Linked DNA regions of Homo sapiens. The protein of the gene in region 1 interacts with the protein of each later gene in a pairwise test. Each region holds a gene or a part of one and is shown on either strand. Other genes may lie near its edges.

What was found. The genes of interacting proteins can lie anywhere in the genome.
Region 2: the proteins of AFP (region 1) and AP4S1 interact in a two-hybrid assay, tested with the Homo sapiens proteins (one large-scale study listed by BioGRID and IntAct).

Annotation. Positions count from the first base shown.
Region 1 is NC_000004.12:73,442,716-73,446,375, forward strand, and holds part of AFP (alpha-fetoprotein isoform 1 precursor), read left to right. Parts: intron 1-631; coding exon 632-729; intron 730-2,277; coding exon 2,278-2,407; intron 2,408-3,660. UniProt on the Homo sapiens protein: Binds copper, nickel, and fatty acids as well as, and bilirubin less well than, serum albumin. Only a small percentage (less than 2%) of the human AFP shows estrogen-binding properties.
Region 2 is NC_000014.9:31,091,575-31,094,385, forward strand, and holds part of AP4S1 (AP-4 complex subunit sigma-1), read left to right. Parts: intron 1-1,332; coding exon 1,333-1,461; 3' UTR 1,462-2,811. UniProt on the Homo sapiens protein: Component of the adaptor protein complex 4 (AP-4). Adaptor protein complexes are vesicle coat components involved both in vesicle formation and cargo selection. They control the vesicular transport of proteins in different trafficking pathways.

The sequences.
Region 1 (3,660 bases):
AAGGAGTAAGTGAAAGAAAACGGAGAAAAGGAGGAGCAGAGGAGAGAGAAAAAATGAAGAACTATGATAAATGCTTTATACTTACTGTTTTTTTAAACCTTAGAACAAATTTGAGGTGTAAGTATTTTTGTCCTTTAACAAACTAGGAAAGAGGTTTAGAGAAGAAAATTTTTTTTAGGTTTAGAGAGGTAGAATAATATCCACCATTAACTACTTGCTACCAGCAGTCCTATAACAAAAATTTCCTGAGAACTGACTACTCTCAGTGTCAAGCCGTGATACAATCGTATTTTTTGTAACTGAGAAGACACTTAAGAAATTAGCAGGCTTCAATTTGTCTTTAAGCTGTTTAAAGGTACAGTTGTTCATTTATGATCCCCAGTATAAAAGTTATGTTTTTGTTTCAAGGTACTTTGAGTAAATTTGTCTGGCACAGATGCATATAAACTAACCCAAAAGAATAAATGAGTCAATAATATTCTGCGATAATGTATGACATTTATAATTTTTAGTAAAAAACATATTTTATGGAATTTCATTTTACCTATACTTGTTGTTTTTCTAAATATTAGAGCTTGTAAAGAAAATGTTAGTATATGCTTTCATGACATTTTGTTTCCTCTACATCTAGGCAGCAACAGTTACAAAAGAATTAAGAGAAAGCAGCTTGTTAAATCAACATGCATGTGCAGTAATGAAAAATTTTGGGACCCGAACTTTCCAAGCCATGTAAGTTCAAGTTCTATCTAGGGAAGAGGGTGAGAGCTACAGAACTACCATTTTGCAATTTGGGTTCGTTTTTTTAATTGTTGCTGTTTTAGAGAATGAAGACCCCTTTGTGACCCCTTTGATGAGGGCTAATGGGATTAGAACCATGAACTCTTAGGATCAGAAGGAAGCTAACGGATAAGTCAGTTTAACACTTACTAAAGCCTAGCTGAGATAATACATAGAAAAGACTTTTAAAGTTTATGTTATTTACCTGTTCTTTAAGACACTTAAGTTCTGGCCTGCCATCAAATTATACCTCATCACTAGACCATATTTTTCTAGCTCTTCTACAAAATAAGTCAGCCTTCACTGAGTGTCATTTAAAACTTTTGCCTTAACAAGAAATTCTTTATATTAATTGTGTTTCTTAATCTTCTATAAGGCTCTTTATAGCATTTATTGCTTCCCATAAAAATATTCCTTTGAGGCAATAATATTAGAATCTAGTGTCAGGAGAAAAGAACATTTTAAATTATATAACTTCTTTAAAGTACTCATCAACTCTTTTATGATAAAACATTTCTAGTATATGAAAATATCTGAGCTGCTAATCGAATAGTAGTAAGTATATATATTCAGAGTTTATTTGATTGCTGTTTGGTTAAATAACACGTTAAAGCATATTGTAGACAATGGAAATCTAGAATGAAGTTTTTAGTAATAGAATTAGTTCTAAAGACTGAAATTTCTTCTTGTAAGAAGTCAGATTTATGCCTTAACTACCCTCCAACTCAATTAGAAATTGAAAGATTAATTTATGACCTACTTTAAAAAAATTTATCTTAGTAATAAAATAGAAATTGAGATAGTATTATAATACCCTTATCATTTGCTATCCATAAGTGAAAGCTAAGTGGTCTAAATTTATAGAGAAGATCCATCTTTATCAGAAGCAGGAGTAACACTATTTTCTCTAGGAGCAATGGTTTTACAAAGACAACTCTTAAAATTTAATGAAATATGCAGAGGAAACCAGAATTTTTATTTCTTACTTCTTTTTTGGCCACATTACTCTCTTGGCACACTGGTATGCCTGAAATGTTTAATCTGCTCCACTTTCTTGTCCCATTTCATTGATTTGCACATACGCCTCCTTTCCTGGATTCTCAGAAGTATTTTTTACCCCAGTAAAAAATGGTTCTCATTTTCATGGAATTTTCCATTTCTTAATTGTTTATCCTTTTAAAGTTTTATGTCCACTCAATACAAATGCTCAGCATAAGGGTTGAATGGCAAAAATAATTTACCTTAATTCTTAAGACATGTTTTAGGAAAAGATAAATTATTTCTAAACCATTTGTGGGGCCAGCTCACAGTTTACAGAGCTACCACCTTGAAAGATATGGCTGGAATCAAGCCTTAAAACATGTTTCCTTTTCTTTTTAAACAACAAGGGAATTTCAGTCATTTCTCTTTGAAACTTCTACTGTAGTAATACTCTATAAATTCTATTTTATTTTGACAGATAACCAAGAAATTAATTTCTAATTTCTTTTTTTTCCCTAGAACTGTTACTAAACTGAGTCAGAAGTTTACCAAAGTTAATTTTACTGAAATCCAGAAACTAGTCCTGGATGTGGCCCATGTACATGAGCACTGTTGCAGAGGAGATGTGCTGGATTGTCTGCAGGATGGGGTGAAGAGTCTTGCTTCTTAAAATAGAAGATTTTCACTCCCTTTTCTTTCTTTTTGTCTCATTCTAAAAGGGAGAAGGTTGTTTGACTTGAATTGGTTACAGAGTATGTAAACTAGGTGACTCCTTAAATTTGCAGAATTCTCGGTAGTAAAACTTAAACCATCTTTTGTTGATCCTGGCTTTCACTTTAGCTATACCCCTTTTTGTGAAACCAAGGCTCATCTATTTCTTACTTCTAAAAAAACCGTGGGAACTTCTCAGAAGGCTTCTCCATAGTTACTTGGAGGACGGGAGGAAACTAAGGTTTAATGTATTTATTTTTTCATTCATTTATTCTTTCATTTGACAAATAAATATATATTAAATACTTTCTATCTGCTAGCCACTATGACAGACACTTGTTTTAAAAGCACAGGCTGACCTCAAGGAATTCACAGTCTGATAGGAGAGATAAGACAGTGACCTCCTTGGAGTTAGGGACTGCCTTGGTTTACTGTTATCTCCATAGCACAATGCCTGGCACATGGAAGGCATTCTATAATAGTTTGTTAAATGAACGAATGCAATAAAAATTGCACAAGTAACTGTCCTACCAGGTAAAAAGCTAGCCTTGCCAAAGACAAGTGTGAATAAAGTGGTCTCGGAGAATTAGAAAACAAAATTTAAAAAACCCAGCAACAGTTTCTTGAGTGTGCTCTAGTCAGTGGTGGTTTAAGCAGTGTGGCATTGGCTTATTTTGGCTAACCCTAGACTTCCTAGATTTTACAAGAGAGGACTGTTGACCCTCAGATTACTCTGTCTCTGTGGGCTCCATGACATACCAAAGAGATTAAAATCCAAGGAGCTTAAAAATTACTGCTCTTAGGTACTCAAATGGCTTGATAACCAGCACTGGACTATGGTTTCCAGAAGGCTGAAAGTGAAGATAAAATGCTCATTTCAGCCCATCCGATGGCAATTCAGTGAGATGCTTGAAGTAAGCAAGAAGCCAAGGCTGCAGAGGAGGCCTGAGAGTGACAGTCCCTGAGGAGCTGGGGAAGAAGTGGGAGGAGGCAGCCTGGCAGGCGACTGTACTACTTTACTTGTTTTTCTTCTAAAAATATGGCATACTAGGAAAACCAACAAGAAGTATTTTGTTTTTCTTTGAGCTCAGTTTTCCCATTTTGAACGGACAATTTTACTGTTTCTCGTTGTCATTTTTAAAAAGTTAATTTTTTCAATTTTTGGAGCTCATAACCACCCTTTTCCTTTAA
Region 2 (2,811 bases), on another chromosome or scaffold:
GAAAACAGTTTATTCTGCTGGAGGACTATTTGCACAGAGCTTAATGAGATATTCACACAGAGCCTAATAAAAACTTTAAAGTCATTCACCATTTGTCCTATTCTGTGTAGTTGCACTTCACTAAGCAAATACAGTGTAGACTTTGAATATCTGGTCTGGTTGAAAAAAATCAAAGGGAACAATTCACTTTACAAAGATTTAATTTTGAACTCCGCTAGTGCATTTAATTACCTATTTGTTGAATGAAGTTTATTTGAAACAATCTGTCAACTGTTTTTGTTTTTGTAACAGACCAGGATCATGCTCTTTAAGTAGACAGAGAACTTCAGATATTAAGGTGTAAAACTGAGAAACATTCATTGTCATCATCTCATTCCAGTTCCCCTTCTTTCACCAAAGAAAAGTTAGGTATTCAGTTGAAGGGATTCTTGAGGGAAGTATTTAGTTCTTTGTGGTTTGCTAGACATCATAGTCTAACAATATTTTCTTCTTTCCCCATGCCCCATACTAACTTCCCAGTAAGAACACCTGTAAGCCAAAGTGGCTCCATCATTCTCAAATGACTTCTTAGAACTACCCATTTGTAAGAGATACTGTCTTGAAATCCAGAAATTTTATTATGCCCTGCCTTCTTCATTCATTTTCTCCTCATAGTTATTTTTACATCAGTCTGTCTGACAGAGAAGAAAACTGAAGGTACAAGGCATTTATTTTGGGGTGGAGGTTTGGGGGCTGAGGAGGGAGGTGTCTAGCCCCTCCTGAGGAGCCTATAAGCAGAGCAGTCAAGCCCAAGCTTTGGGTTTAAATTCAAACCTGGCATTTACTAGCCATGTGACCTTGGACTATGCTTTGAACCTGTTTGATCCTGGGTAAACTGAGGATAATATGTAACAACATACATCAGAGATTTGTAGAGGGCTGAAACTCAACACACTGTCTGGAACGGGAGTATTCAACAAATCGTTGCTACTGTTACTATTATTGTCTGGGAAGACAACACTATTTTTGAGTTAAGGTCATTCTCTTGCCACATGACACTGCTGTGTTCTCTAGCACTTAGTAGACCCCCTATCCCTTTGGTTAAAAAATGTAGCTGTTTCATTTTTATCCCTACTTATCCTGTTAGCTTAACCAAGGTGAAACTAGGTATGTATATATGAAGGTAACAATTTCTAATATGGATGCCAGTTTTAAATTTAATTTCAGAAATTTTGTACAAAAAACCTCATGCTTAGGCTAATTTACACTGGGAACACTCTAGGTTAAGCCATAAATTTTTACTGAATGTTAATAATTTTTAACTTTAAACTAATTTCCTTAATATAACCGTAGATAATGTTTAATTTGGATAAAGTACACATCATTTTGGATGAGATGGTGTTAAATGGCTGCATTGTGGAAACTAACAGGGCAAGAATTCTTGCCCCTCTACTAATTCTTGATAAGATGTCAGAAAGCTGAAAGGAAGTCTCTTCGAGACAATATGGATTTATCAGAAATGCGAGTACCGTGGAATACATCTCAACATGTTAACCCAGAAGAATCTGGAAGACCACAATTACAAAATGGGGTATCCTTCCAAAGACATTATAAATAGGCATTTTCCACAGTTCCTAAAAAGAAAACACAACTGTACTTTAAAATATGTACAAAGAAAAAAATTTCTTTAAACTGAGAGAGAAGTTTTATTTTCTAATTGTAAACATATCTGTCGCACTTTAAATTCTGTTGAGCACCTAAGGAACCCTTCTTGGTCTATGCTTCTTTTGCAAATTGAATTCAGGAATAGCAGGATGGTAGTGGGAAGAAAGTATGGCAGTTTTCCGTCAGCCAATAAAGTTTTAAAATTTAAACACAAGGCATTTTGAGTAACGCTGTTTTCTGAAAGCTATTTTTTTTTTTTTGAGACGGAGTCTAGTCTAGCTGTGTCACCTGGCACATTCTCGGCTCACTGCAACCTCCACTTCCGGGGTTCAAGCGATTCTCCTGCCTCAGCCTCCGAGCTGGGACTACAGGCATGCACCACCACACCTGGCTAATTTTTGTATTTTTAGTAGAGACAGGGTTTCACCATGTTGGCCAGGCTGTCTCAAACTCCTGACCTCAGGTGATCTGCCTGCCTCAGCCTCCCAGAACGCTGGGATTACAGATGAGCCACAGTGCCTGACTTCTGAAGGCTGTCTTATTCCTTTAAAAGGCTTAGTAAAATTAACTTTTTAAGAGGTGTTTTTTTGTTTGTTTTTTTGTTTTGTTTTTTAAGACGGAGTCTTGCTCTGTCACCCAAGCTGGAGTGCAGTGGTGTGATCTCAGCTCACTGCAACCTCCACCTCTGGGTTTAAGCAATTCTCCTGCCTCAGCCTCCTGAGTAGCTGCGACTACAGGCATGTAGTCCCCAGGAGACTGAGCTGTGATTACAGATGTGAGCCACCATGCCCTGCCCGGTTTTATGTAAAGCCCAGCTAATTTTTGTATTTTTAGTAGAGATAGGGTTTCACCATGTTGGCCAGGCTGTTCTTGAACTCCTGACCTCAAGTGATCCACCTGCTTCAGCCTCCCAAAGTGCTGGGATTACAAGCATGAGCCACCATGCCCAGCCAAGAGGTGTTTTTTGTTTGTTTGTTTTTAAGAGAAGCAGGTCTTGCTGTGTTGTCCAGGCTGGACTGCAGTGGCTTTTCACAAGCATGATCATGTTGTACTACAACCTTGAACCTTCCTGGCCTGGCTCTAAAAGCTTTGTAATGTGGGGCTGGTGCAGTGCCTCACACCTGTAACCCCTGCACTTTGGGAGGCTGAGGAAGGAGGATCGCTTGA